Linked DNA regions of Homo sapiens: regions 1, 3 and 4 are each linked to region 2. The links come from fine-mapping of genetic effects on gene expression. A gene starts in region 2. Each other region holds a variant in brackets. All regions are shown on one strand. Distances are between the middles of the regions.

Evidence for each region. PIP is the estimated chance that this variant, and not a neighbour inherited with it, causes the effect. A credible set is the group of variants that fine-mapping cannot tell apart.
Region 1: its variant is the best candidate, but not a certain one, in a credible set for the expression of PHLDB2 in whole blood (TOPMed, PIP 0.77).
Region 3: its variant is the best candidate, but not a certain one, in a credible set for the expression of PHLDB2 in tibial artery (GTEx, PIP 0.57).
Region 4: its variant is the best candidate, but not a certain one, in a credible set for the expression of PHLDB2 in whole blood (TOPMed, PIP 0.58).

The regions. Positions count from the first base shown.
Region 1 is chr3:111,834,615-111,842,032 of GRCh38, reverse strand. It overlaps LOC105374040 (a long non-coding RNA gene), which reads left to right. Exons shown (of 4, transcript XR_924333.4): 2 at 6,135-6,310. It also overlaps a transcript of PHLDB2 not described here. Among named protein-coding and RNA genes, the nearest start is that of PHLDB2, 21 kb to the left of the region's middle. The variant A/G (reference allele first, on the strand shown) is at 4,193.
Region 2 is chr3:111,855,561-111,862,978 of GRCh38, reverse strand. PHLDB2 (pleckstrin homology like domain family B member 2) reads right to left here and starts at 3,714. Exons shown (of 18, transcript NM_001134438.2): 1 at 3,403-3,714. It overlaps LOC105374040 (a long non-coding RNA gene), which reads left to right and starts at 2,163. Exons shown (of 4, transcript XR_924333.4): 1 at 2,163-2,319. RefSeq lists enhancers at 2,281-2,390, 2,721-3,305, 3,306-3,892 and a silencer at 3,197-3,256.
Region 3 is chr3:111,755,781-111,763,198 of GRCh38, reverse strand. It overlaps a transcript of PHLDB2 not described here. Among named protein-coding and RNA genes, the nearest start is that of PLCXD2-AS1, 82 kb to the right of the region's middle. The variant A/G (reference allele first, on the strand shown) is at 3,709.
Region 4 is chr3:111,907,320-111,914,737 of GRCh38, reverse strand. PHLDB2 (pleckstrin homology like domain family B member 2) reads right to left here. Exons shown (of 18, transcript NM_001134438.2): 3 at 1,036-1,419. Among named protein-coding and RNA genes, the nearest start is that of PHLDB2, 52 kb to the right of the region's middle. The variant C/T (reference allele first, on the strand shown) is at 4,003.

The DNA of each region.
Region 1 (7,418 bases), 21 kb after region 2:
GTCCAAAGTCAATAGTAAGAAAGATAGGAAGACAAAATGCAGACCTAGATCTGTGTGAGTCTGTTCCTTAATACATGTACTGTGCTGTCTCCCACAAGCTTTGCTTTGCTTTCTAACTCTGACTTTCTAGGTTCCGCACAAATGCCAACATCTTCAGGCCAATTTCTTTTTCCAGGGCATTCCTACAGTGCTCTAGGTCTATCAGTCTTAGAGTGGTAGACAGCATTTCTACCTCTACAGTCTAATGAAGAGTTGCAGAATCAACACATTCATAATAAAAATGTTGTGGAATAAATGTATTGATAAATGTTCACTCTCCTTAACTCCTCCACACGCAGGAGTCTTAGAAGCCCAGCTGACACCCTGTACAGAGTGATTTCCTGATGTTCAGAGCACTTACAGCCAGAGTAACTGAGAGCCCAACCCAGAGAAAACGCATCTCTTTATTCTATTTGAAGAGGTTATGAGTGAGAAGAAAAGAACAAAAGTTGATCTCAACTGTTAGATAGAGAGACAATGCCCATACTCATTCACCTGTCAAGGTGGTTCTGGAGTTCTACAATCTTGATGCAACCTTCCACCTTTCCTCACATAATAACTGCAGATATACCTAAATTAGTTCCTGGTATGTAGGAGGGGTTCAAGAAGTTTCCTCTTCCTTTTTCATTCCTTTACAGTTCCCCCCTCCTCCTACTCCTACTCAATAACCATGAAAAGCTCACTGTTTAAATTCAAACCCCTTCTCTACTAAAAATACAGCTAAAAATTAGCTGGGTGTGATGGCGGGTGCCTGTAGTCCCAGCTACTCAGGAGGCTGAGGGATGAGAATCGCTTTAACCTGGGAGGCAGAGGTTGCAGTGAGCCAAGATCACGCCATTGCACTCCAGCCTGGGCGACAGAGTGAGACTCCGTCTCAAAAATAAATACACAAAATTAATTAATTAAATAAAATTATAAATTCAAACTTCTAGTCTGGAATGGAGTAACTATAAAAGAAGAGAAAAAATACAAACCTAGCTCCCTAGATTAGCTGCCTAAACTCCTCTGTGGCCTGGTAATCATGACAAAATGGTATTGGGGACTATCTGCCTGCTGATGAAACTATGACATCTGTCCACATATGTCTTTATGCATTATTATAATGTGAGAGGCAGTAGAAGAAAAGTAGTTCTTTTTAATAAAATAGGGTATACCAGTGTTTACGTGAGCTTACATTGTGTCAGGCATTGTACTGAAGTCTGTATAGACATCTTGTCATTTTATTCTCACACAATCTTTTGAGTAGGTTCGTCTAATTGATAGGCAAGAAAATTGAGGGCAGAAGAGGAGGAATAACTTCTCTAAGGTCACCTAGTCAGTAAGAGAGGAGTCAGCAACCTCCCCTTAATTTATGTGGCCCTAAGACAGGTCTATTTCTGTGTTAGATTGTCTCTTTATCTTTTCTGTTATCATCAAGCTCCCTTTCATGGAAACTGTTCTCCTAAAAGTGGTATGGAGGAAAATGACTCTAATGTGTAAACAAGACTACAAGCCATTATCCAATATCAATGCAAAAATGCTAGAGTAAATATTAGAAAACAGAATCCAAACACCACATTAAGAAAATATACCATGACCAGGTAGGATTTATTTCTGGAATGCAAGGATGATTCAATATGAGGAAATCTATTAATTTAAATACTATATTAGTAGATATAAGAAGATTAATTGTATATTATCCTCAGTTGGGGAAAAGGCTTTTTAAAATTCTTTTAATTTTATTTTATTAAACAAATTTTTTTTGGAGACAGGGTCTCACTGTCACCCAGGCTGGAGTGCAGTGGTGCAATCATAGCTCATTGCAGCCTCAACCTCCTGGGCTCAAGCAATTCTTCTGCCTCAGTCTTCCAAGCAGGTAGGACTACAGGCATGTACCACTCTACCTGGCTAATATTTTTATTTTGATTTGTTAGAAATGGGGCCTCACTATTTTGCCTAGGTTGGTCTTAAACTCCTTGTCTCAAGCAATTCTGCTGCCTCAGCCTCCCGAAGTGCTGGGATTACAGGCATGAGCCACCACACTTGGCGCAAAAAAAAAAAAAAAAAAAAAAAAGCGGGGGTGGGGGGCTTTTAAACAAAACTCAATTCCTATTCCTGATAAAAACACTCAAGAAAATAGAAATTGAGGCATATTTTCTACACTTGATCTTAGCCATAAGGCTGAGAAATGATAATGCATATTTTTCTATACCTCGGTCCTAAAGCCGGTGTTATGTTTAGTCAGAAAATACTAGAGGTATTTCCACTGAGATTACAAAAAGGTAAGGATGCTTACTCTCTCTCCATCTATTGAACATTTTTTTCCTAGAGATTATAACCAACACAATTAAAAAAGAAAAAAATCGATTCACAGGAAATGGAAAAGAAGAAATAAAACTATTTACAGTTGATATAGTTTACCCAGAGAATCTGAGAAAATCAATGATAAACTCACAGGCCATAAAATCAACTTTATCTTTTTAAAATGCTAAAGATAATGTTAATTTTAAAATAACTTCAAATGTTAAAAGCTGCAAGAATAGCACAAAGAACATTTTTTTTCTGGAGCTACTTGAGAGTACATTGTGAACAGAGAGCGCATCACTGTTGAATAATGTGTAACTCTTCCAAGAAGGGCATTTTTCAGATAACCAATACACAAGAATCAAAATCAGGACATTGTCATTGACACTAACATTAAATTCACAAACTCTGTTCAAGTTAGTTAATTATCCCAATAATATTCTTTATAGAATGCAATCTAGGAACATGTGTTATATTTAGTTTTTCTGACTCTAATGTTTTTGTTTGTTTGTTTGTTTGTTTCAGTCTGGAAGAGCTCAGTGTGGGTGGCCTCTTGGCTAATTTATCCTCACTTGCACCCTCTCAGTACCAGGGGTAATGGAAGAGACAAAGAGGGTGACCACAATCAAACCCATCCTGCCAGACATATAAAATGAATAATTGCTTGAGTGTGTAGAGAAATCTGGAAGTGATTCTATACTTTTATCTTATTTTTACTATAAAAGTTTTGAAGCAGACTATAAAAATAGAAATATGTTAAATGATGAATATTCATTCTGCTGAATTCTTCCTAGATAGAATGTTCACAAGAAAAAAATTGTCTTATTTCCAAAATGATTCTCCTAAATTAGATTTAGAAGTGTATCTGTTCTTAGGTCAGTATATGCTCAGCACTAACTGCTCTTCAAGAAAATCTCAGAGTCTATTCTTAGATTAAATTTTAAACAGATAATACCGAGAACACAACTATCCTCATTTTGTTAGATATTAATTCTAAGCAAGTTTTAAAAAATATTCTAATCTGACTCTGCCTCAAAGTTCTGTTGGAAATTCAGATTGTCACTAATTCTGTGGGGCTGTAGTTCAAATTTCTTTATATGTAAAGCCTACAACTATTTTTTCCTAGTTATATTTTTATGGTAATCAAATTATTAGCCTTCATCCATGTTGACTGTCTGAAGGGTTCTGAAAGTATAATAGGTATATAAGTAACTTCCATGCTGTGCTGGTTTGATGAATTTCTGGGAAATCAACCCAGATACATTATTGGATTTGCTATCATTCTTGTAGAGCTGCTTTTCTGAGAACAGTTTGGAAAGGGAAAGAGGGATTGTGGGCAGGGTCAAATTCCTCTTCTAGGTTGCCAGAGGCAAGAGCGTACTGAGGAACTTTTTAAACATACAGGTTCCTGGGTAGGAGTGGTGGCAGGTGCCTATAGTCCCAGCCGATCAGGAGATAAAGGCGGGAAGACTGCTTGAGCCCAGGAGTTTGCGACAAGCCTGGGCAACATAGCGAGAACCTGTCTCTAAAACAAACATGCAAACAAATACATAAATAAAAATAAAATTACAGGTACCTTACCCGCACTCTAGACTTTCTGAATCAGAATCTGTGTTGGTAGGTTCAGTAATGTGTGTTTGTTGTTGTTGTTGTTGTTGTTGTTATTTTTGAGACAGAGTCTCCCTCTGTCACCCAGGCTGGAGTGCGGTGGGACGATCTCAGCTTACTGCAACCTCCACCTCCCGGGTTCAAGTGATTCTCATGCTGCAGTTCCCGAGTAGCTGAGATTACAGGCGTGCATCACTATGCCTGGCTAATTTTTGTATTTGTAGTAGAGAAGAGATTTTGCCATGTTGACCAGGCTGGTCTC[A/G]AACTCCTGGCTTCAAGTTATCCTCCTGCCTTGGCCTTCCACAGTCCTGAAATTACAGGTGTGAACCACCGTGCCCGGCCAGGTTCAGTAATATGTATTTGTAAGAAGTTTCCAAAGAAAGTCTTCTGTAGTAAGCTTAATACTAACCTTGATTAGCTTTGAGAAATTGTGTCCCACAGAATGTCAGTTTAACAGAATGATCCCATAAAAAAACTAAGGAGTTTTGGAAATGATGCATTCTATAGCCCCTCCTTAGCAAGCCATGGGACATATTAGTATATGCATTTAGTATAGGGTCTGAGGAAACATCTACTTAATTTTGTGTAATCCAGCATTTCTCAGATTTATTTGAGTACAGCACACACTTTTTTTGACACAACAGAAATTACTATGCACCCCAAAGAGCACGACTTTGAGAGAGATTGATATAGAACACACTCTTCTCCATGCCACCCCCTCTTTATTAATAGATCAACTGTTTGATGTTAGGCAACTCAGGAATGAATGTAACTTCAAACTTTTATAAGGAATATTGTACAAGGTTGCGTAAGAACTTCCTGCCTAGTATTCTCTGGCTCTTCCTCTGTTCATTCCTAAACTTTAGATATTTTTTAAAAACCGATAACAGTTATGGTAACAAATGTGCACTGATTTCTTACTCTATGCAGACTGTGTTCTAAGCACTTTGCAGGCATTATACCCCTTAATACACAGCCCTCTGAGGTAGTTTCATTACTATAACAATGTTATAACAGGATACTGAGGTACAGAGATATTAAACAACTAAACCTAAGAAAACTCACAGTAAGTGGTGAAGCAGGTATTACAGACACTAAATCCAGGTTCTCAGATTCAAAGTCTATAATGTTAACCACTTCATTATTCCACCTGAATAATGTAGATTTGATATGGTTTGGCTCTGTGTCCCACCCAAATCTCATCTCGAATTGTCATCCCCATGTGTCAAGGGAGGGACCTGGTGGGAGATGATTGGATCATCGGGGTGGTCCACTCTTGCTGTTCTCCTGATAGTAAGTTTTCATGAGGTCTGATGGTTTAAAAGTTTTTGGCAGTCCCCCTCACCTCCTGTCACCATGTAAGATGTGCCTTGCTTCCCCTTCACTTTTTGCCACAATTGTAAGGTCCCTGAGGCCTCCTCAGCCATGTGGAACTGTAAGTCAATTAAATCTTTTTCCTTTATAAATTGCCCAGACTCCGGTGGTTCTTTATAGCATGTGAAAATGGACTAATACGAGATTCTTTGGTAATCTTATTCAAAGCCAAAGCTTCCCTTGTTCATGGCTTCCTAAGCCCTGTCCCTAATGCTTGCTCTCTCTTCTGAGCTACAGATCTACATCCCTAACTGCTTGTTAGACACGTCAGTGAGGAGCTAGAACTGGATTCTCAAACTTAACATATCTCTGTAGAATCTCATCTTCCCTTTCCAAACTTACCCTTCCTTTTGTTTTCCCTCTTTCCAGCATTCATGAATTTCTTCATATGACAACTGTGAGCACTTACCATGCATTTGGCACTGTGCTCTGTTGGGGACTTAAAGGTGAACAGGGCTTCTTATTCCTGACTTCCGTTTGGCTCATAACTTCAGTGAACACATGCTTCATCATGGCCACTTTCTTCTCTTTCTGCATTTTGTCCTTTCAGATTAGTCTCCAGCAGCTGTTTTATTCTGTAAGTTGTTCTTAAGTCATATCATTGAAAAAGAATTTGGTTGTTGGATTATCTTTCTCTGAAAGGACATTGGCATGTCTGTAGGTGCTGTGGCAGATTGTATTACAAAAATGGCCCCACTGGCTTACATGCTCATGCCACCATGTGACATTGGCAGCCCTCCATCATGAGGTGGGGTCTACATTTCTCCCCTTGGATCTGGATGGGCCTGTAAATACTAGTGGAAGTGATGCTATGCTATGTGCTTTTCAAGGCTAAGCTCTAAAAGGCAGACAACTTCTTCCTGGCCCTTCGGAGAAGCTAGCCCTTGGAACCTAGGCCCTGAGTCGTGAGGAAGAGGAAAGACTACATGGGGTCACTATGTAAGGTGTTCCTGGTGACAGCTCCTGCTGAGGACCCAGCTGACAGCAAGCACCAACCTCCAGACAAGTGAGTAAGATTTCAGATGATTCCTAGTCCTATCCTTTTCGTGTCCCCAGCTGATGCTGAGTGAAGCAGAGACAAGATGTTCTCTCTGAACCTTAGCTAAATTGCAGAGTTGGAGCAGCATAAATACTGTCATTGTTTTAAGCCGCTGAGTTTTGGGGTGTCTGTTACACTGCAATCGACAGTGGGAACAGGTGCCTACCATTATTTTCACCAGCTATTGACAGAGGCAGAGTCACATGGCATAAAGTATAGCTACCTGGAAGGAGCTGCTGCTGGGGAAGCAGGCACCATTATTAAGTGTCAATTGTGTGCCATCCGTTTCACATTTTTAAATCTCTGTAACACTTAATAAAGTACTTTGCATGTAGTATATGTTGAATAAATATTTGCTAAATTGAGTTGAAATATGGCTTGATAGTTAAGTACATGACCTTAGCAGTCAGATATACTACACAAACCACAGCTCTAGATGCTACAGCTGTGTGATGGGAAGCAAGTTTCTTCCCCAATCCATCAGTTTCTATATTTTTATGGTAATAAAAATATCATTAAACTCTGAAACTGATATAAGGATTAAATATTTAAGGCATGTGCAAGTGCCTAAGAATGAGAGGCTCATGGTAAATCTCTCTCTCATTCTCTCTTAAATTTTGGGACAAAATGAGAAGGATTGTAGCCTGATTGTGAGGGATCTTGAAGCATAGTTAAGGTTCCTTTTTTAGGCATTAGGGACTCATGGAAAATTACAAAGGTGTGATATGCATAAGGCAAGGTTTGAGAAGATTACTATGGCAATAATGTGTAGAAAGGATATATAAAAACCAGTTCCGAAGCTAAAGTCAGTGTCCAAGAATGTTAGGGTCTAAAAAAGACTTAAAAATATAGCCAAGGGGATATCAGGTCAGGAATAAATTGCAGGATGATATTACAAAGGAAATTTCCATAGTCTTTGATTGGCTGGGTTTGAGTCTACCAAGGAAAAAGTTAAAATAAGAAAAGCAAGTCCAAAATTGGTCTCAATAATTTGGCAGCATTTATTAAAGGATCCCCTATGATTCAACAATTTCACTTCTAAAAATTTGTCTTATAAAGAAATGAGGGCAAGAGT
Region 2 (7,418 bases):
TAAAATTTTTAACTCCTGGGTTGTACCTAGAACTTTGTCTGCCCGCCCTTAGCTCGCTTGAGACCTTATGAGTCCTAAAGCTCTGAGTGTCTCAGTTTTTTACATCTATAAAAAGAAGGGGTAGAAATTAAGTGATCTCTGAGGCTCCCTTGTGCTCTAATGCTCCCAAATCCCATGACTTTAATCCATCTCAAAGTTGTCAATGAACACAAGTTCCTCGACCTCTATGGTATATTAAGACTCTAAATGGCAAGGACAAAAGAATCTGCTGCATACAAAACGGCTTCTATGATAAGGGTCTCTTGTTTAACACAGTTAAACAAGTTTCTTGAGGATCCAAATCAGATTAAGATGCCTAATCTTGTTAACCTACTCCCCCAGGCAATACTGTAGTGCAGGGTTTGGGGCTGCATAATTGTTTTTGTGTCCCGTGCATGGCAGGGTGCTTAACCGCATCCCAGGCCTCTACCCACTATATGGCAGTAGCACTCTCCTCCTGTCAGTTGCTACAACCAAAAATACGTTGCCAGTATCCTCTGGGGGCCAAAACCCCTCTCCCAGTGAAAACCACAGCTCTAATGTATGTCAGGACTTTAAGATAAAGCACATCACTTAGGTGTTTTTGTTTCAAAAGAGTGACATTTACACAATCAACAATTGGTACACCAAGACTTTACAGATAGATTCATAAGGCACAGGTACTCCACCTAGAAAATGTACAAAGCCACTGTCACTCTAAGCCATCCACAGCACCATAGCACTGCCTCCCTGCTAAGGGTTGAAAATCAGGATATAAAGCCATAACGTTAACTACTCCTTTAAAAATATTTAAAAGGAGACCGGGTGTGGTGGCTCATGCCTGTAATCCCAGTACTTTGGGAGGCCAAGGCAGGTGGATCACCTGAGGTTAAGAGTTTGAGACCAGCCTGACCAACATGGCAAAATCCTGTCACTACTAAAAATAGAAAAATTAGCCAGGTGTGGTGGCAGGCGCCTGTAATCCCAGCTACTCGGGAGGCTGAGGCAGGAAAATGGCTTGAACCAAGGAGGCAGAAGTTGTAGTGAGCCGAGGTAACTTCTCCAATGAACTCGAGAGTCAACCCTTGCTTATAGATCTCAAAATGGAGCTTTGAAGAAAATAGGGAAAACCAGAGATTGGTTAATCACTTTGGCTTATTTTTTCCTCTCTTGCATACACAACAAACACACATGGTAAATAAAACGTTTCTGGAAAGGTTGCTAACGAGTTTCAGCTTGGTCACAGTTATTGAACGGAGGAGTAAGCAAGCTCTCAGTCCAATTTCCCAAGTATCTTTTCCTCCCCTTTTCAAACAGGGATCCAGGCGACACTCGTGGCAGACGATCTCAACACCAAAAGAACAGCAGCTGCCAGCTGCATAAAACAGATTGAGGCCTGCAAATTGACTGAAATGATGACTACTCTTAACCAGACATCTCATTTTTCCACTTCTGACAGGCTGAGATCTGCAAACCTCTGGGTCTCAAGAGATGAAGGCTACATTAGCCAACTAAGACGACAAACTCAACTCTTCCTTGTCATTAAATAATTTGCCAGTTATAAATGGTTTGGTAACTTTACAGAATTTAAGTACATGTAATGTTTAAATTTCCCCATTAAATGTAAGAGGCAAAGAAAATCCTTTTAAATAACTAAGCAGAGGATATGAAAGGGGAGCCAAGAATAGACAGAACTGTTACTTTTCAAAGAACCTTCGCTCTTTATTCAAACAAATATTTACACAATTGAAGGCAACGGCAAGAGAGATATAGCCATTCTGTTAAAATAGTGGGCAACTCTAACGGTTTATTTATCCCAAATCCGACAGTTCTGTTGCTAACCTACCAGGAACCAAGAATTCAAGTGTTCACAGGGCAAAAGTTTAACCTTCTGAAACTGTGGACCTCATTTAGATCTCTCCCAGCCGAATTCAAACGTTAGAATCCCAGAGACATATCTCGAACGCCCAAATTAAACCAAACTAGGAAGCTTAAAATTACACGTCCAATACTTGAAAACCTACATCTGTAACTTACACGTTCATATTACGAAGGGAAATGTGGCTGACAAATATTTACACTAAAAAGACTCCACATTTTTATGCCTCGTCTAGTTACACTCCCAGCTGTGCCTGGCTATGACTAGTTGTGCATTCTAGAGCTCTTTAGAGCTACTTCAGAGTTGCAGGATAAAGATTTCTAGGGAAGAGGGCAGGGCCAGGCGCCCGGAGGATTTCCAGCCACGGGTAGTTTACCGAGAGAAAAAGCTGCGGGCGTCGCTCCCTCTTTTACATAAGAAAGGTAAGTGAGGAACCGCGAAGCAGTTTGACTTCTCAAGCTCTTTCAAACAGGAAACCCCAACCCTGGGAGGGACAGCCTGTCAGCCTTTTAATTTCCTGGTGGTGGCGGGAGTTAGCCAGGTCCTCGGCGCTTTAATAAGTGATGACTGCTAGGGCTAAGTTATTAAGCGAACCAGCAAACGATTCAGCTGCGCCTCCGCCGCGCAGGGAGCTGGAGAAACAGAGGGTTAAAATACTCCCCAAGCCTTCCAGCTGCTATCTCTAGGGGTGCCGAGACGGCCACACTGTAAACTTTCAGTGGGGGGTCAAAGGCCAAATCGAAATCAGCCGCTTTTGGCGGTTAAAGCTCGTAGGTTCACTCTTGAAAGAAAGTGGAACTAGAAGCGCAGCTAGCCAAATATTTGCGGGGAGGGAGTCTTCTCTGAATCCCGCGCCCTACACCATCCAGCAGCGGACCTTCTCTTTCTCAGGGAGCTATCCCAAGGATCCCCATCCCTCTCTCCATGTGCATTCCAGAGTTGCTGGAAAAAGTTGCCCCCAGTTCCCCCACATTCTGCCTGTTTTCTACAATCACTCTGGAAGCATCTTCCCTACCAGACACTCCCTCCCCGGGATCCCCTCAACCGGAGATCTACCCAGCCCCCCGAGAGTCATGCACAACGGGGTTCGCCACCCCCACCCACCCAGCTGCGCAGCCTGGGCACTGCCGACCCCAGCCCGGGCTTTTGTCCCTACAGCCTGTAAAGAAGCAAAGAAACTCTGTGTCCCCGGAGCCCACTCACCGTCTCATCTTTCCTCCAAACCGCCGCTCTACGCTGGCGCCGCCGCCCTAGCGCCTAGCCTTTGCCCCCGCCCACCCTGTCTCCCTCCGTGAGCCCGCCGGCCCCTCCTGACTCGCGGTGAGCAGTCAGCGCGCCCCTCCTCGGCCCGGGCAGCCACTGCCTCCTCTCCGCCCCCAACCCTCCGCAGCGCAACCGGCGGCAACCAACTCGGCCGCGGGGGAGGCAGCGTCCCCGGGACGCACTCCTGGCACACGGAGTCGGCACCACCCCCTCCTCCCGGGCGACCACCGCCGCCTCCTCACCTGGCCATTGGTGCAGCCCGTTCCCGGCGGCGAGAGAAGGCAGGCGCGCTCCTTGCGCCACGCCACACCGTCGGGCCCCCGTCGGGTCCCCCTCGGGCCGCAATGGTGGGCTCCGCGCGGCTGGGTCCGGCACTCTTGACCCCCTTTGTAACCACCGCGGCGGGCACCCAGGGAGTTCGAGCAACGAAGTTGGTGACCTGCCCCGCTCCCAGGCAGTTTGCTGTTGGGGCTTTCACGGCTGCTGGAAGGGCATGGCTGTTTGCCCCATCACTGGGCGCCAGCTTCTCAAAGCTACGTTCGCAGCAACGCAGTAGGGACTTTCGTGGCAGGCTTTTTTTAAGAGCTGAAAGAAGGGCGGGAGGGTTTACGTCCTAGGGTGATGATTTCCTCACCAGACAGCGAAGTATCTATTGGGAAACTCCAGGTGACCGCACCTCCTTCCGACAGTTCGCCCCGGGGCAAGTTTACCAGCTGCGTCAGAAAGCAGGTTTGCAAAATCCTTGGAGAACGGCCTGAGCTAAGGACTGGGGTCAGGAGGGTTTTAAACTCATTCTGATTTTCTTGCAATCATATCTCTTGAAAGTTTTTATATTTTCCCCAATATTTTTCTGAGTTGCTATATCCAATGAAAACAATGCTGATGTAGAGGTCCACCAGCCAATGCTTTATTGGAAGTCAACGAATGAGACCGAGGGTGGCCCATAATCAATCTCGGCACGCGGGAATGTGAACCTCTTCCAAGGTCTGGGCGAGTCCCTAGAGTTACGCAGATGAAGGACATTGGCCCTCGAGAATCTCACACCAGCAAAGAAGAGCACAACGAAGCGCAAACTACTTATGATCATTGTGGCTTTGGGCAAGTTGTTGTAGCTCCCAGCAACAATTTCTTCACCTGGAGTGCAGCAATAAATGATACTGGTGCTGCAGGGCAGCTAATAAGCTTCTGAATAATATATGCAAAGTACTTGGCACCATGAGCAGAACTCAGTATACCGTCACTGAAGAAATAGCTTATTTAATGATTACACTTTTCATATGTGCAAGTAAAAGTTTGACTTTTAGGGAGAGCCTCACCTACGGAATGTCTTTTTTAAATTTCTTTTTTAATTATACTTTAAGTTCTGGGATACATGTGCAGAACGTGCAGGTTTGTTACACAGGTATACATGTGCCATGGTGGTTTGCAGCACCCATCAACCCTTCATCTAGGTTTTAAGCTCCGCATGCATTAGTTATTTGTCCTAATGCTCTCCCTCCCCTTGTCCCCCACCCCCCAACAGGCCTCAGGGTGTGATGTTCCCCTCCCTGGGTCCATATGTTCTCATTGTTCAACTCCCACTTATGATGAGAACATGCAGTGTTTGGTTTTCTGTTCCTGTGTTAGTTTGCTGAGAATGATGGTTTCCAGCATCATCCACGTCCCTGCAAAGGACATGAATTCATTCTTTTTTATGGCTGCATGGTATTCCATGGTGTATATGTGCCACATTTTCTTCATCCAGTCTATCATTGATGGGCACTTGGGTTGGTTCCAAGTCTTTGTTATTGTGAACAGTGCTGCAATAAACATACGTTTGTATGTGTCTTTATAGTAGAATGATTTATAATTCTTTGGGTATATACCCAGTAATGGGATTGCTGGGTCAAATGGTATTTCTAGTTCTAGATCCCTGAGGAATCGCCACACTGTCTTCCACAATGGTTGAACTAACTTATACTCCCACCAACAGTGTAAAAGCGTTCCCATTTCTCCACATTCTCTGCAGCGTCTGTTATTTCCTGACTTTTTAATGATTGCCATTCTAACTGGCGTGAGATGGTATCTCGTTGTGGTTTTGATTTGCATTTCTGTAATGACTAGTGATGATGAGCTTTTTTTCATATGTTTGTTAGGAATGCCGGGTTTTTTAGAGGAATTCTTTTCCCTGTCCTGAGTTTTTGCCCTGCAGAAGCATACATACACTGATCAATCCAACAGTTAAACAGTTAAGTGCTCCAGCAATGTTCTTTTCTCACCCACGTCATCTCTTTCCTCCTCTTTTTTGGATCATCCCCATAAACATACAATCATTTTATTTCCATTACCTTGGAATTTTTTTTTCTTTTCTTTTCTTTTTTTTTTTTTTGAGACAGGGCCTCACTTTGTCACCCAGGTTGGAGTGCAATGGCACAGTCATAGCTCACTGCAGCCTTAACCTCCTGGGCTCAAGTGATCCTCCCACTTCAGCCTCCTGAATAGCTGGGACCACAGGTGCAGACCACCATGCCCAGCTAATATTGAATTTTTTGCAGAGATGGGGTTTCACCACATTGCCCAGACTGTTCTTGAACTCCTGGGCTCAAGCGATCTGTCTGCCTCCGCCACCCTAAGTGTTGGGATGACAGGTGTGAGCCACTGTGCCCAGCCTCCTACTTCCCCTTTATCACTCACTTAGCCCCTGCCACAGTGGCCTCGTAGACTAGATTCCTAGGTAAATCCGTTCTATCTCAGGGCCTTTGTTCTAATTGCCCTCTCTGCCTATAATTCCCTCCTCCCAAGTATCTGCATGGTTCACTCCCTCACTTCCTTCAAGACCCTGTTCAATGTCACCGTGTTGCTCAGGCCTGCTCTGACCACTCTACTTAAAAGTTTAAAATGTGTTTTCCATACTACTTAAATTTACTTTTTGACAAAGTCACCACATTCTACTATATTGTAAAATGTACTTTTTAAATTATGTTTATTGTCTGTCTCTCCTCACTAGAATGTAAGGCAGGCAGGCAGAGAGTTTTGCCTGTTCTCTCCAGTGCTATATCCCTAGTGTGCCTACAAGGATACCGGACATGTAAATGGTGCTCAAGAATAAATGATGGCTTTGACCCAAAGCACTGTGTTGCAAACATTTCCTTGCCTCGAGCAATGCCAGAAATACACTTGACTACACAGACATCTTAGAGACAACCTTTCTCCCTTCAGGTCTAAGGAGAATGTGCACCAACACAGCACATTTAGAATGGCCATAATTAGATTGCCAATATTTATGTCTAAGAAAAAAATAGCTAAATTTATTGAGAGCAATAATTACTATTGTATACGTATCCGGTATTCTTCCAAATATAGGACAATATTAGTTGATGCGGTGAGAGTTACTGTTTGTTACTACTCCCATTTTATAAGTAAAAAAGGAATCACAGAGAAGTCAGTTGTCACTCAGGTAATAAGTTGGTAGAGGCAGAATTTGAGCACTTGTTCTTGAGTTCATTGTCTTTAATGCTACCTTCTACCTCTTTTCTAAGTATGAATGTTACTAGGGGATATTTCTGTATAATGAATAATTCCAAATTACTAGACAAAAAGTAATCCTCACTGGCCTCCCTTCACTGCCTTGTTTTATCTGCTAGCATCTCTATCTCTTAGGATAGCCAAGCTCCTAGAAGGCAAAGGGAGTCATTTTATTCATATTTGTATGAATCATACTCCAAGACTTATATATGGAAGGGACTCAAAAAGTAGTCATTGAATGTGACTTTTTCAAGTGACTAAACCCAGCAAAGTTTCCCATTCCTGATGAGTTAGAGTGGTTTTCAATAGCTTTCATAAGGCCATAGCAGCCTGAAGATAGACGAGACCACCCTGAAGGTGCAAGTCTTAAATTAGATAAATTCAGTCCAGGCTCAATGGCTCATGCCTGTAATCCCAACACCTTGGGAGCCGAGGTAGCAGGATTGCTTGAGATTAGAAGTTCCAGAGCAGCCTGGCCAACATGGCAAAACCCGTCTCTACTAAAAATACAAAAATATTAGCCGGGCATGGTGGTGCACCATCTGTAGTCCCAGCTACTCAGGAGGCTGAGGTGGGAGAATCACCTGAGAATTCGAGGCTGGGTGATCCATGATCGCACCATTGCACTCCAGCCTGGGTGGCAGAGTGAGACCTTGTCGCCAAAAAAAAAAAAAAAAAAAAAAAAGACAAATGCAGACCTCAACATCTATAGAAAGCACTCAATAAAGTGCAACTGTTATTGTTATTATTATAT
Region 3 (7,418 bases), 100 kb after region 2:
GAAGAATGCTAGGGAGTCAATGAATCAAATACCTAAAATCCTTGATTTGCATTGTCCAGTTTCCTAACATACTCACTTTCAGGCAGGATCATAAAGCTCAGTGCAGCTATGGCTCCCTGCCTTTCCTTGGGGCTGCCTGTAGAAGTGCTGGGAGACATGCAAGGATTCTTGCAGGTGCAGAAGAGGGTGGGCTCTCAGAGCTATATACCCTGCACCAAACAGGCAGCTAGTTTTAATCTTTCCATTTCTCTTCTCACTTCTTAGTCATTGCTCTCCTTTTTCAAAAAAGGAGAATTAATTCTTTGGAACTCTTAGGAACCAGAGGGCTTTGAGTCTGCAATGTTTATGAATCTGCTGAGAGTGCTGGGAAATGAGGCTTCTTTTTTGCACATGAAGTCATATTTTAACCCAAACCAAAAGAAAAAAAAGAGAAAGATTATTTGAGAGTCTGTGGGGATCAGAGCTGGGTATTGTGTTACAGAAATTTTCCATTTCAGACACAAACTACGTACAGCAGTATGTGAGCCAAAAAAGGCCAAGAGAGACTCCAGGAGGGCTTGAAGAAATAATACCTCCTCCTTTAATCCTGACGAGTGTGGCCAGGTTCTTGGGAGGGCTGGGTGGAAGGTCTGGATCAGATCACACTTAGAGGCCTGTGATTAGAATGATGATAATTGTGGCATCACAAGGCATAACTTCAGAGCGCTCCCTAGGATGCCCTTGGGCAAGGTACTTAACCCTTCTGTGCCTTAGTTTCCAATATCTGAAAATGGGATAAACACCTCAAAATTTATTGACAGTGTCAAAACATTACACATATTGGCTATATAATAATAATATGGTAATGCTAGTTATATAATTAAATAATACATATAGTTAGCATTTATTGAGGCCTTACTATACATGAGCTATTGTGTTAAAGCTTCCTAAACATTATCTTCTTTAAACTTCACAACAGTCCTCTGAGATCAATTGTGTTATCCTTCCAGTACTGCAGTTTAGAAAAGTAAGTGACTGACTTAAGTTTATCACCTTAGGTAGTAGACTTGGATCTCAAATCTAAGTCTAGTCTGGCACCAAAACCCATGCAATGAACTAATAGCTAAGACGCTGGTCTGGTTCTCAGCTGAATGTGGCGGATGGGATTGGGGGGGCATCCCTTTTTGGATAAAATGTGTTCCTCTGACCCCTCATCCTCTCTTTTAGCAGTGCCCCTTTTAGGTGAACATACAAGCACCTATTTTAAGGAAATGTCAGGCTGGGGGTAATTACTCTGTAATTCTTCTTATGTATACACATTAAATAAATTTGTATGCTTTTTCTGCTATTAAAAAAAAATGTTGGGCTGGTTTTCCAGGTAAATAAACCAGTCATGGCCTCTGTGGCTCAATTCTGAAACCGGTATTGCCTAAAGCAGTGGGTCTTATGGTGTGGTATCCCCGACCAGCATCACCTGGGAACTTGTTAGAGCTAAAAATTCTCTTGCCCCACCCACATGTACTGAATCAGAAATTCTGGGTGTGTAGATCAGCAATCCTGTTTTAACAAGCCCTTGAAGTGATCTGAATGCAGCTGAAGTTTGAGAACGACTGGCCTCTGGGGTAGATAAAGCAGAGAGTTAAATCAGGAATAGAGATCTAACTATGATTCTTAACAGCTGCTAGTGACTCATTCTCCCTAGTCATTCTCTTCTGAGTTTCTGCCTTTTTAGGATGAAGGATTTGTTCACGTCCCATCTTGTGTGATAAATTTCATCAACAGTGTCAGTTCCTTTCTGAATCAATGCCGTGTATAAGGAGACTTTGAGCTTTATACACTCCCATGTGTACCCATACCCACTTCTGCTTTTGGAACCACTTGCTCATTTCCCATTGTGGATGATTAGCTTCAAATTATCTTCATGACAGAAGCAAAAAAATTGAATAACACTGTAGTTCTAGGTGGAATAGGAGGATCACAAAGCTGGGATTAGTATTCAAATGTGTTTAGTTTTTTTTTTCTTTTTTTTTTTTTTTGAGATGGAGTCTCACTCTGTCGCTAGGCTGGGGTGCAGTGGTGCCACCTTAGCTCACTGCAACCTCCACCTCCGGGGTTCAGGTGATTCTCCTTCCTCAGCCTCCCTAGTAGCTGGGACTACAAGCACGCACCACCACGCGCAGATAATTTTTGTATTTTTAGTAGAGACGGGGTTTCACCATGTTGGCCAGGATGGTCTCAATCACCTGACCTCGTGATCCACCCGCCTCGGCCTCCCATAGTGCTGGGATTACAGGCGTGAGCCACCACACCTGGCCGACTTAGTTCTAAAGGTTCCAAGCAGTGCTATGAATGAACTAAGTAGCATCCTGGCCCCTCTCCCAAACTTCTCACCTACAATTTATCACAAAAGATAAAACAACTAAAACTGAAAATGGAGAAAATTATTGCTTCAGTTTTTTAATCTAAGCTCTGATTCAAATTTTGCTTCTCAGCCTCACCAGTCCCACGTGGCTCTCAGGAAAAAAAAAACAAACAAAAAACTGTATACACATCGCAGAAGCAAGAAAACAGAACACGTTTTCTGCCTTCTAGTTCACTCCCCAGAAGCCAGAGTAAGATGAGTCCCGCAGTCCAACACAAACCTTTTAATAACCATGTAAACATAAATTTCAATAAAAAGAACTCCAACTTTGCTAGTTTGTTACAAAAGCCTAGTTTTTTATCTGAAATGCTGCTTTTCCTAATTGAAAAATAGTAGAAAATTTTATTTGACTTTGACAGAAAATGGAAGCTATGGTTATTGATGAGACCTGTATTTAGTATCTTTGGAGTAGGACAATTTTTTTTATCTCAACAAAGATGCATTGAAACTAAGTTTTGGTTTGAGGGATCTTTGGATTCCATCTTACAGTCCACGTAAGGTAAAATAGGAATTTTAAAAATGTAAACATGGTTTCTGCTGATGGACAATGTTTGTGAATTTCAAAAGAGTTTTGCTCAGCACTTTATATTGCTCTCTGGTCTTAACTTTAATTCATTGTGGACATACTGAAAGAATATCAGTCAGGAATATGGGTTAGCAACATGCACATGAAGGCAAGAAGTATTATGTGCATTAAACTCTGACCTAGTGGAAGTGAAGATTGCCTAGCAATGTCTCCCCTGAAATGCTTTTGCATAAGTATTGTGGCTACAGCCTGAATCCAATACAGAGGCATGAAGACACAGAAACTTCACATGGCTTTCTCTGTTTGACAGATACATTTAGATCTCTGCCCTTAAAGCCTCTTGTCCTACAAACTGCATATTGTTGCTATTATGAACCAACAATATTCCCAACGAACTCTTGATTGTCACCCAATTATAGCCTATTGATTAAGAATAAAAAATTTGGAAAGAGAGAAACTCAAATCCAAAATCTGACGTCATCTCTTGTAAGCTGTGTGCCCTTAGACAAATTACTTAATCTGAGATTTGTTTGCTCACTTATAAATTGGGGATAAAAATTTCCACCTTATAGGGTTGCATGATGACTGATTTGGATAATGTCCAATTACCTGGCCTTTAGTAGGTGTTATATTATTTTGCTGTCTTGAAACCATTTGGTGCAAAGAGTAACTTTACATGCTAAACATATATTCCTCACTGTGCATGCATACACACACACGGGATATACATACATACATATGTGTGTGTGTATATATACATGTAAATATATATAAAATCTCA[A/G]TGTTGTGGTCTAAATGTTGGTGTCTCCTCAAAATTCATAAATTGAAACCTAATCACCAATGTGACAGCATTAGGAGAAGGAGCCTTTGGGTAAGGCTGAAACTCTCATGAATAGGATTGGTACCCTTACAAAAGAAACCCCAGAGAGCTAGTTTGTCCTTCCACCATGTGAGGACACAGTGAGAAGGCACCATCTACGAACCAGAAAGTGGATCCCCACTTGATACCAAATCTGCTGGTGTCTTAATTGTGGCCTTTCCAGCCTCCAGAATGGTGAGAAATAAGTTTCTGTTGTTCATAAGCTACCTAGTTTATGGTATTTTGTTACAACAGCCTGAGTGGACTAAGACAATCATTGAAAAAAAAAAAAGATATATCACTAGGATATTTATGCACATATATAATTACATTTTTACTCTAATCAGCTCTGAAGAGCAGTCATTTTTCTCCTTTCTTCCTTAAAATATCACAGTAAACTCTACTGACTGACTCCTAGTTTCTGGGATGAAGCTTATAGGCTAAAGATGGCCTGGGCCCCATATTGATAGGACCCATTAGCAAAACATAGCTTGTTGTCTCTGTCTGTGCCGCATCTAGTAGCTTATAAAACCATCTTCATGAGTTTATCGTGGTTGATGACTCACCCCTCCCATGGCTGCAATCCTATGAAACATGTCAAGCCATGGGTTCTTCAAGCTATATTAACAGCAAAATAGATGCACTTGAAATTTTTTTGTGGTCGAGCCAAGATGGCCGAATAGGAACAGCTCCAGTCTGCAGCTCCCAGCGTGAGCCACACAGAAGATGGGTGATTTCTGCATTTCCATCTGAGGTACCGGGTTCATCTCACTAGGGAGTGCCAGACAGTGGGCGCAGGTCAGTGGGTGCGCGCACACTGCACCAGCTGAAGCAGGGCGAGGCATTGCCTCACTCGGGAAGTGCAAGGGACCAGGCAGTTCCCTTTCCTAGTCAAAGAAAGGGGTGACAGATGGCACCTGGAAAATCGGGTCACTCCCACCCTAATACTGCGCTTTTCCGACGAGCTTAAAAAACAGCGCACCAGGAGATTATATCCCGCACATGGCTCGGAGGGTCCTATGCCCACAGAGTCTTGCTGATTGCTAGCACAGCAGTCTGAGATCAAACTGCAAGGTGGCAGCGAGGCTGGGGGAGGGGCACCCACCATTGCCCAGGGTTGCTTAGGTAAACAAAGCAGGCGGGAAGCTCGAACTGGGTGGAGCCCACCACAGCTCAAGGAGGCCTGCCTGCCTCTATAGGCTCCACCTCTAGGGGCAGGGCACAGACAAACAAAAAGACAGCAGTAACCTCTGCAGAGTTAAATGTCCCTGTCTGACAGCTTTGAAGAGAGCAGTGGTTCTCCCAGCACGCAGCTGGAGATCTGAGAACGGGCAGACTGCCTCCTCAAGTGGGTCCCTGGCCCCTGACCCCTGAGCAGCCTAACTGGGAGGCACCCCCCAGTAGGGGCAGACTGACACCTCACACGGCCGGGTACTCCTCTGAGACAAAACTTCCAGAGGAACGATCAGACAGCAGCATTCGCGGTTCACGAAAATTCACTCTTCTGCAGCCACCGCTGCAGATACCGAGGCAAACAGTGTCTGGAGTGGACTTCTAGCAAACTCCAACAGACCTGCAGCTGAGGTCTGTTGTTAGACCTGTTGTCAGCTGTTAACCTGTCTGTTAGAAGGAAAACTAACAAACAGAAAGGACATCCACACCAAAAACCCATCTGTACATCACCAACATCGAAGACAAAAAGTAGATAAAACCACAAAGATGGGGAAAAAACAGAGCAGAAAAACTGGAAACTCTAAAAAGCAGAGTGCCTCTCCTCCTCCAGAGGAACGCAGCTCCTCACCAGCAACGGAACAAAGCTGGATGGAGAATGACTTTGACCAGTTGAGAGAAGAAGGCTTCAGACGATCAAACTACTCCGAGCTACAGGAGGAAATTCAAACCAAAGGCGAAGAAGTTGAAAACTTTGAAAAAAATTTAGACAAATGTGTAACTAGAATAACCAATACAGAGAAGTGCTTAAAGGAGCTGATGGAGCTGAAAGCTCCATTCATGAAATGAATGAAATGAAGCGAGAAGGGAAGTTTAGAGAAAAAAGAATAAAAAGAAACGAACAAAGCCTCCCAGAAATATGAGACTATGTGAAAAGACCAAATCTACATCTGATTGGTGTACCTGAAAGTGACAGGGAGAATGGAACCAAGTTGGAAAACACTCTGCAGGATATTATACAGGAGAACTTCCCCAGTCTAGCAAGGCAGGCCAACATTCAGATTAAGGAAATACAGAGAACTCCACAAAGATACTCCTCGAGAAGAGCAACTCCAAGACACTTAATTGTCAGATTCACCAAAGTTGAAATGAAGGAAAAAATGTTAAGGGCAGCCAGAGAGAAAGGTCAGGTTACCCACAAAGGGAAGCCCATCAGACTAACAGTGGATCTCTAGCCAGAAACTCTACAAGCCAGAAGAGAGTGGGGGCCAATATTCAACATTCTTAAAGAAAAGAATTTTCAACCCAGAATTTCATATCCAGCCAAACTAAGCTTCATAAGTGAAGGAGAAATAAAATACTTTACAGACAAGCAAATGCTGAGAGATTTTGTCACCACCAGGCCTGCCCTAAAAGAGCTCCTGAAGGAAGCACTAAACATGGAAAGGAACAACAGGTACCAGCCACTGCAAAATCATGCCAAATTGTAAAGACCATCGAGGCTAGGAAGAAACTGCATCCACTAACGAGCAAAATAACCAGCTAACATCATAATGACAGGATCAAATTCACACATAACAATATTAACTTTAAATGTAAATGGACTAAATGCTCCAATTAAAAGACACAGACTGGCAAATTGGATAAAGAGTCAAGACCCATCAGTGTGCTGTATGCAGTAAATCCATCTCACGTGCAGAGACACACATAGGCTCAAAATAAAAGGATGGAGGAAGATCTACCAAGCAAATGGAAAACAAAAAAAGGCAGGGGTTGCAATCCTAGTCTCTGATAAAAGACTTTAAACCAACAAAGATCAAAAGAGACAAGGCCATTACATAATGGTAAAGGGATCAATTCAACGAGAAGAGCTAACTATCCTAAATATATATGCACCCAATACAGGAGCACCCAGATTCATAAAGCAAGTCCTGAGTGACCTACAAAGAGACTTAGACTCCCACACAATAATAATGGGAGACTTTAACACCCCACTGTCAACATTAGACAGATCAACGAGACAGAAAGTTAACAAGGATACCCAGGAATTGAACTCAGCTCTGCACCAAGCGGACCTAATAGACATCTACTGAACTCTCCACCCCAAATCAACAGAATATACATTTTTTTCAGCACCACACCACACCTATTCCAAAATTGACCACATAGTTGGAAGTAAAAAGCTCTCCTCAGCAAATGTAAAAGAACAGAAATTATAACAAACTGTCTCTCAGACCACAGCGCAATCAAACTAGAACTCAGGATTAAGAAACTCACTCAAAACCACTCAACTACATGGAAACTGAACAACCTGCTCCTGAATGACTAGTGGGTACATAATGAAATGAAGGCAGAAATAAAAATGTTCTTTGAAACCAATGAGAACAAAGACACAACATACCAGAATCTCTGGGACACATTCAAAGCAGTGTGTAGAGGGAAATTTATAGCACTAAATGCCC
Region 4 (7,418 bases), 52 kb before region 2:
GAAAAAATACAAATAAAGTCAAAATAAAGACTAGTTATGATAAAAGGCTCATCTGCTTACCACAAACAGCTCTTACTACTCAGTAAAACACAAGAAAAATAAAACAATTAAAAAAATGGGTGAAGAACATGAATAAGTGGGTCAAAAAATACAAATAATAACTAAAAATATGGAAAGATCCCCAACTTGATGTATAATTAAAGAAAAGCAAATTAAACTTCTATCAATTTGGCTAATTGAAAAATTTTGACAATATGCAACCTTGGCAAGTGTATGGAGAACACTTGTGTTTATATGCACATATAAACTTAGTCAAAGTGTCACCTGGATATATAGACTCTTTTTTTAATATGGTCTTTTAGAAGTACGATTTGGAAATATTGAGTAAAGTGAAAAATACACAAACTCTTTGACCCAGCAATTCCACTTTTAGTAAGTGATCCCACAGACACATTTGCAGAATTGTGCAAATATATATATGCTACAATATTTGCGCATATGGATTTTATTAGCAAAAAAAAAAAAACCCTGAAAATAAACGGTAGTTGCAAACAAAAGAAGAGCAATTGGTCATTAAAAAGAATGAGGTAGAGCTATGTATACTAATATGCAAAGATACCCAAGGCATTTAGTGAGGGAAAAAAAGTACAGAACACTATGTGTGTGTCTGTCTGTCTATGCCTATAACAGATAGCCATATATACACAGAAAATATTAGGAAGGCAGGTAAGACAATTTTAGCACCAGTTTTACACCTGCTTATCACTCAGGTGTACAACCTGAAAGGGTGCAGGGAGAAGAGAAATGTGCTTTCTTTCTACTCTTCTGTGCTGCTACAATTTTTACAGTGCAAATTTGTTACTTTACAGTAAACACCCTAATTTGCTGCACCTCGCTCAGCTAATGACCTCTTAAATTGAAATTTCACTGAAAACATCCTGGATAATTAGCATGATAAAATCATCAGTTTTCATGCCAAAGCATATGCACAGCCCTAGACCTTAAATCCTAGTATCTTTGCTGGGCCAACATTACCTTTGGTAGGATACTTAGATAAGAGGACTCGCTGGAAGCTTTCGGAAAGGTGGAGGATGGTGGTGGAGGAGTCCGGGTGAGGTCACTGAGTAGTTCATCATTCCTGGTGCTCCTGGGGGTAAAGAAGCTGGCACTGCTCTGACTGAGACTCCCACAGCTTGCCAAGTCTGCATCAGGGAGGGAGTCTTTCCGGTGGCACCTGTATCTTGTGTCAGGGCTCATGAGGGCTTCCTCAAACACAGACTCCTCATCAGAGAGCTGCAGCTTCTCAAGCTCCTTGTTGATTTTCTGCACATCTTCCACGGTGGTCCCAGTAGATAAGCGACTGTCAGGCTTTGTGTATTCAGCACAGAGACTGAGGATGGTCTCCAGACGCTGTCTCTCCTGGAACACAGGGAGGAGGGGGAGGTCAGTGGGTTTGTGAGAATGAATACTACTCCAAATAAAAAGACTGAAGAGGCTGGGACAACTGGTGCTTGCATTCCATACATAAACCCACAAACACTTGGCTGGTGATGATTTTCATAATCTTTGACGGATGCATTTAAAGATCCAGGTGAAATGGGGTTTAACAATGCCCAACTTTCCTCCCAAACTCAATTCTGGCTTCTACTCTCTCCCCTTTATTGGTATATCACAGGGCTGGCCCTAGCACACATCAGCACTCAGTAAGCCTTTTCATAACTTATAAATTCTCCAAGGTTTCTGAAGGGTGGGGTTAGGGAGAAAGACAAGGTCTTACTCTGTCCCAAAGGCTGGAGTGCAGTGGCACAATCATAGCTCACTTTATTTAACTCCTGGGGTCCAGTGATCCTCCTGCCTCAGCCTCCCAAAAGTTGCTGAGATTACAGGCACATGCCATTGCACCAAATTCATTTTTTTTAAACCTCCATTTCCTATCTATCCTCCTTCCCAGGCTCTACTTATCTACCTTCAACAATATCTAGCTTTTTCATCACTACTGACTTAATACTTGTGCTTAAAACTAATTCTCTAACTTCCTAAATATTATCCTACTGTTAGACTATGTGCTAGACACACAAAGAGAAAAACAGCTACTTACTGAATCTTTTAATTTAAAAGACCTATGTCTTCAATTTTTTTTTCTTGAAAATTTTGAAAATTTTCTAAACTTTTTAATGCCTGGTCACCATATAAAGGTCTTTCTCTACTAATTTCTTATATAATTAAAATTATAAAAGAGATAGAATGTTGCACTAAAATGAAGAACATTTCACATGAAGTCCAGATACACACCGATGTAACTCAAATTCATAGGTCATTAAATCTTTGATTAATTTAGCTAGAAAATAAAATTTATTTGTTAAAAATCAATACATAGGCCATTGATATCTATAAGAGTACTGCAATCTTACCAGACTCCCCATGCAACAGGCAGATATCTATGATTTTGAACTTTAAGTAGGTTAATTATACAGTTTGTGAGCAACAGGATATAATTTACAAAATGCTTCTCTGCTTCTCATAAACCTAGACAGCATTGCTTGAGGTAGGAAATCTCAACATCTTTACCTTTCATGTTAATTCCAAGGCCAAAGTGAAAAAAGAACTAAAAACAAAAACCATCTATTGTGATCACATTTACCACACTGAGAAGAGGCTTCACACGCTCTCCATAGAAAAACATTTTCCAAACTGCTTATCAGCAATAAAGCAGAAAAATATTAAGCATCACTGGACTGCTGTTCTCATTTCAATTGCAGCTAATTTGTAAAGACAAACTTTACAAGACAATTAGCTCTTTATTAGTTGATGCTATTAACAAGTAGAAAAGTCAAATAGGAACAGACCAACATAACTCCTTAGGTTCCATTAAATACATTACTCAAATGACAAGACAGATATTTAAGGTGTATCTGACTTACATTTGCCCTCTAAAGTAATCCCCCAACAAAAAAAACAAAAGAGCAATAGCTTGATCAAAAGGACTAATAAACTAGTTCCTACAAGCTCGCACCTCCCTTTCACTGCCTGAACTTCTGGACTCCAGCTGCAGCTCCGTCCTCATGGCCTCTTCCCACGGCAGGCACTCATAGCTACACACTCTCATCTTGGGCTCTTCTGCACCCTATCCATCCAGGAGCCCTGGTACTTATTTATCTCTTCAGTTTCCACCAGCTGCCAAGCCCTGCCCACCTCAGCTTTATAGGGAGGAAGCAGGGGGGACATAGCCTTCATTGCCTTATTTTAAACTTCTCCAACAATCTGGAAAAGTCTACATGGGCATATGCAAAAACAACCTCCAAGAGCATATGTAAGGAGAGGGAGAGGGACAAGATGTTACATTTTACTTCTCAATAGCATCTATATTAGAGGCGAATCTCTGAAGGAAAGTTCTTTTTCTGCCACTTAGGTAATTAAGTTGAAGCATCTAAACTCAAGTCTTTCCTAATCTTTGTAGTATAACATGTATACATTAGCCTTGGCATAAATATTTGGGATTATCTGAAAGTTGTCCATTTCCAATTACCTGGGCTCTAAGGTGTGGTGTTCAAAAGCATGAAAGATATTTCTGTTCAGCCTGGAATACAGAGAAAAATTCCTCCCACATGGCCTTCCCAAAATAGTTTCTTTTTCTGCAGTGGTATTGCTTAATTCCAAAGGGAATAAATGATCCCAGCCTTAAGATGAATGCTATTTCAGACAGTGAAACGCAGTATTCAAAGGCTTGTGAACAGGAAGTTTGGTCTACTGGTATGTGTTTCTCTCTATTCTTATCACCCCATTCACAGCCAATCTGTTCAAGTTTGAATCACTGACACATGCAGCACTGCTGCCCACGAGTTTAAAAGAAAACCAGGTTGCACTGAGACACACTGGCCCTATAAAAGCTGCACTAAAGAAAAATAAACTGATGTCCAAGGTGCATCAGAAGAAAGTCTGTAAGGCATTTCAGAAAGCACTACAGGAAGCCTTTTAAGGAAAACTCTGAACAGAAATTACTGT[C/T]ATAAGATAATTCTCCCTTCAGCCTTCTGCACTCTGGAGTCTTCTTCCTTCCCATTCATCATGCCAATAGCCTGCAACCTGCATGACCCAAATCCAGAATGACCATTCCAGACCAGAACCTCTCAAGAATCAAAGAGGGCACTGTTAATAATTATGCTGGAACCTCAAATGCAAACTGGGGTTGGTCCTGGCAAACTGTGATGTCTGTCCCCCTACTTAAAACCAAACTTTCTTTGAAGCTTCACCTAACAACCTGCTATTTAATAAGTCAAGAGGCTGGCTGCCCTCTGAGATTTCCAAATCCTACCCACCTTTCCAAACTAGGAATCTAGTGTTCATTCTCTTGAAAAGTCCAAGTACAGAGCCTACATACCTTAATGCTCCAAAATATCAGTGCTAAGAATTTAGAAAGTAGGTCATCTTGAATAAAATTATTTTACATATATTTTTTATTTTTTTCGCCATTCCCATTTCTCCTTTTCTTCATCTTGATCTCCCACATATATCAAAGGAAGTGTTGAAGGAGACACAAGATTTTAGAAAGTATACGTAAAGAAAATTGTGTGCAATTTTTCACTTAGAGGTTAAAGGGGAAAAAATGGTGATGGGCTAGGGGTATGTTTTTTGACCTCTGAGCTTTTTTCCATCTTCAGAGGACTGTGTCTGACATTGTTCCCACTGCAGATTCACAGCCCTCAGGAGAGGGTACATCCATCTCCTAAACCCATCCAAGGGCCCTTGTAACTAACACCAACCAGTGTAGGTCACAGGACGGTACACATACTGCATAAATACATACATTATGCAGAAAACCAACTGCTGACACTTAAGCACAGGTGTAATCTTTGCTAAAAACCTTTTGTTATAACCAGTATATTGGGTCATGTATTACTTAAAACAAAAGGTCAACCTTTAATTTTTAGATATAATTTAGTTGAAATGGGATTTTTTTTTTTTTTAGGAGGACCTATTATAACTGGTGTGACTTGACTTCTCTCTTCTATTAGCCCCAGGACTTCAATGTCTCCATAATCTTCAGTTCAACAAAGGTCTACTAACTTACTTATTGTCTAGTAACGTGCTGGGGATCCATAAATGAAAAAAGATGGCAAGATGAAAATTTTTTTCTTTTTTTCCTGAGACAAAGTCTGTCAATGTCACCCAGGCTGGAGCACAGTGGTGCACTCATAGCTCACTGCAAGCCTCGATCTCCTGGGCTCAAGGGATCCTCCCACCTCAGCCTCCAGAGTAGCGGGGACTCCAGGCATGCAAACTTGCCCAGTTAATTTTTTAATTTTTTGGAAGAAAGATGGCATCTTGCTATGTTGCACAGGCTGGTCTCAAGCTCCTGGACTCAAGCAATCTTCCTCTCACCTTGGCCTCTCACATGAGACACTGCACATAGCAAAGCATAGCATTTCTACCCTCAAACCTTTAATAGGAGGCACAAATAGGTGATCACTTATAAAAGCAGTGATAACAGAAGTTTATAGACCACCTATGAGTTCACAGATGGGTAAACAGTACACAAAAATTACAGAAAAACAAATTTGAGTCCTCAAGGATAAATATGAGTCTGTCTGCTCTACTGGGACAGTGGGGTGGGCAGGGCATTTCCATAAAAGCACCACAGAAGCAAAGGCATAGAGCTGTGGCATATCATGGTATGCTCAGAGATCAGCAACTAGTATGTGGCTAGAGAGATGGGGTCTTTTGGGGGAAGAGGAATGAGGTACCTGCACAAAAATGGGTCACATTTCTTCCTCTTAGGGATTACAACAGCCCTAAAGTAAGTTTTGGAAACCACAAGAGTCAGGAACCCTGGTCTGAGTGAGTGGTAGAATGAGAAAAGCTGGTGCTGACAGCAGGTATGCAGACTTCCCAGGATTCCATGTACAAATCCTGATGTTTCAATTAGGTAATGACAGAAAGGAGGGAAAACAGAAGCAATGGCTCAAAGTCTGTTATACGGGTCTGTCTGTTTTAGAGATAAATCCTTGAGGGTAGTAACTGGGCTATTACAATCAGTTCACCTCTTTCTGGACACAGGGTAAGATGGCTCCTCTCTTCCTCACCCTCAAACTGGATATGGCCCTCAGACTTGTACCGGCCAATGAAGTGTGAAAAGCAAGGTGTATCACTTCTGCATGAACAACAGCCAGGGCATAATTCATCACATGCCTTGCTCTAACATGGCAGAGTGGCTCTCCAGATTGGCTGCAGGTGTTGGCTCCATCAGGAAACGTGGAGCAGAGGCCTCTTTTAACCCACACTAGTCCTGGAGTGTAAGAAAGAAACAGACCTGTATTTAAGACTTGGAGTTTTTTTTAAATTTTACTAATGGACTTCTACATTATGACTAATAAACCATGTGCAATTTCAGGCAGAACACTTTTCCAAAACTTAGAGATGAGGGACTCAGGGATCCTACTAAAGAAAGCTCAGTTACTTATTGGGTAATAAATAATTTGTCTTCGCCCAAAGAGAGGTCTGACCTTTGCCATTGGCTTCTGGGAGATTATCTATGTCATACTCAGCTGCAGTGTCTTTGTTTAGGGTAGAGTGGGCCACATGTGATAATCTTAGGGTATAAGCTGGCCACTCCAGAAAGACCAATTATGTGATTTAGTGTGGGAGCCTTAAGTCATGGGTTATCAGCCAAGCTGGAGACTGAAATTAACCATGTGGGAAACTGATCAATCAGTAATGCTTATGTGATGAAGTCTCAATAAAAACTATGGCAAAACCCCATCTCTACAAAAAATGCAAAAATTACCTGGGCGTGGTGGCTCATGCCTGTATTCTCAGCTACTTGGAAGGCTAAGGCTGGAGGATCACTTGAGTCCAGGAGGCGGAGGTTGCAATGAGCTGATATAGCACCACTGCACTCCAGCCTGAGAGACAGAGGGAGACCCTGTCTCAAAAAAACAAAACAGAAAAAAATAGCTGACCACGGTGGCTCACACCTGTAATCCCCAAACTTTGGAAGGTTGAGGCGTGTGGATCACCAGAGGTCAGGAGTTTTAGACCAGCCTAATATGGTTAAACCCTGTATCTACTAAAAATACAAAAATCAGCTGGGAGCGGTGGTGGGCACCTGTAGTCCCAGCTACTTGGGAGGGTGAGAAAGGAGAATTGCTTGAACCCAGGAGGCAAAGGTTGCAGTGAGCCCAGTCGTGCTACTACACTCCAACTTGGGCAACAAAGCAAGACTCTCTCTCAAAAAACAAACAAACAAACAAACAAACAAAAAACCTGTGGGTACTACAGCTTGGGTAAGCCTCCCTGTCATGTGCACACTATCACCTACCAATGCTTAATGCTGGTAGAGTAACACTTTCTGACCTACAGGAAAAGGACATGGAAGTGTTGCCTTTGGAACTCTTTGGACTCTGCCCCGTGTGTGTCTTTCTTTG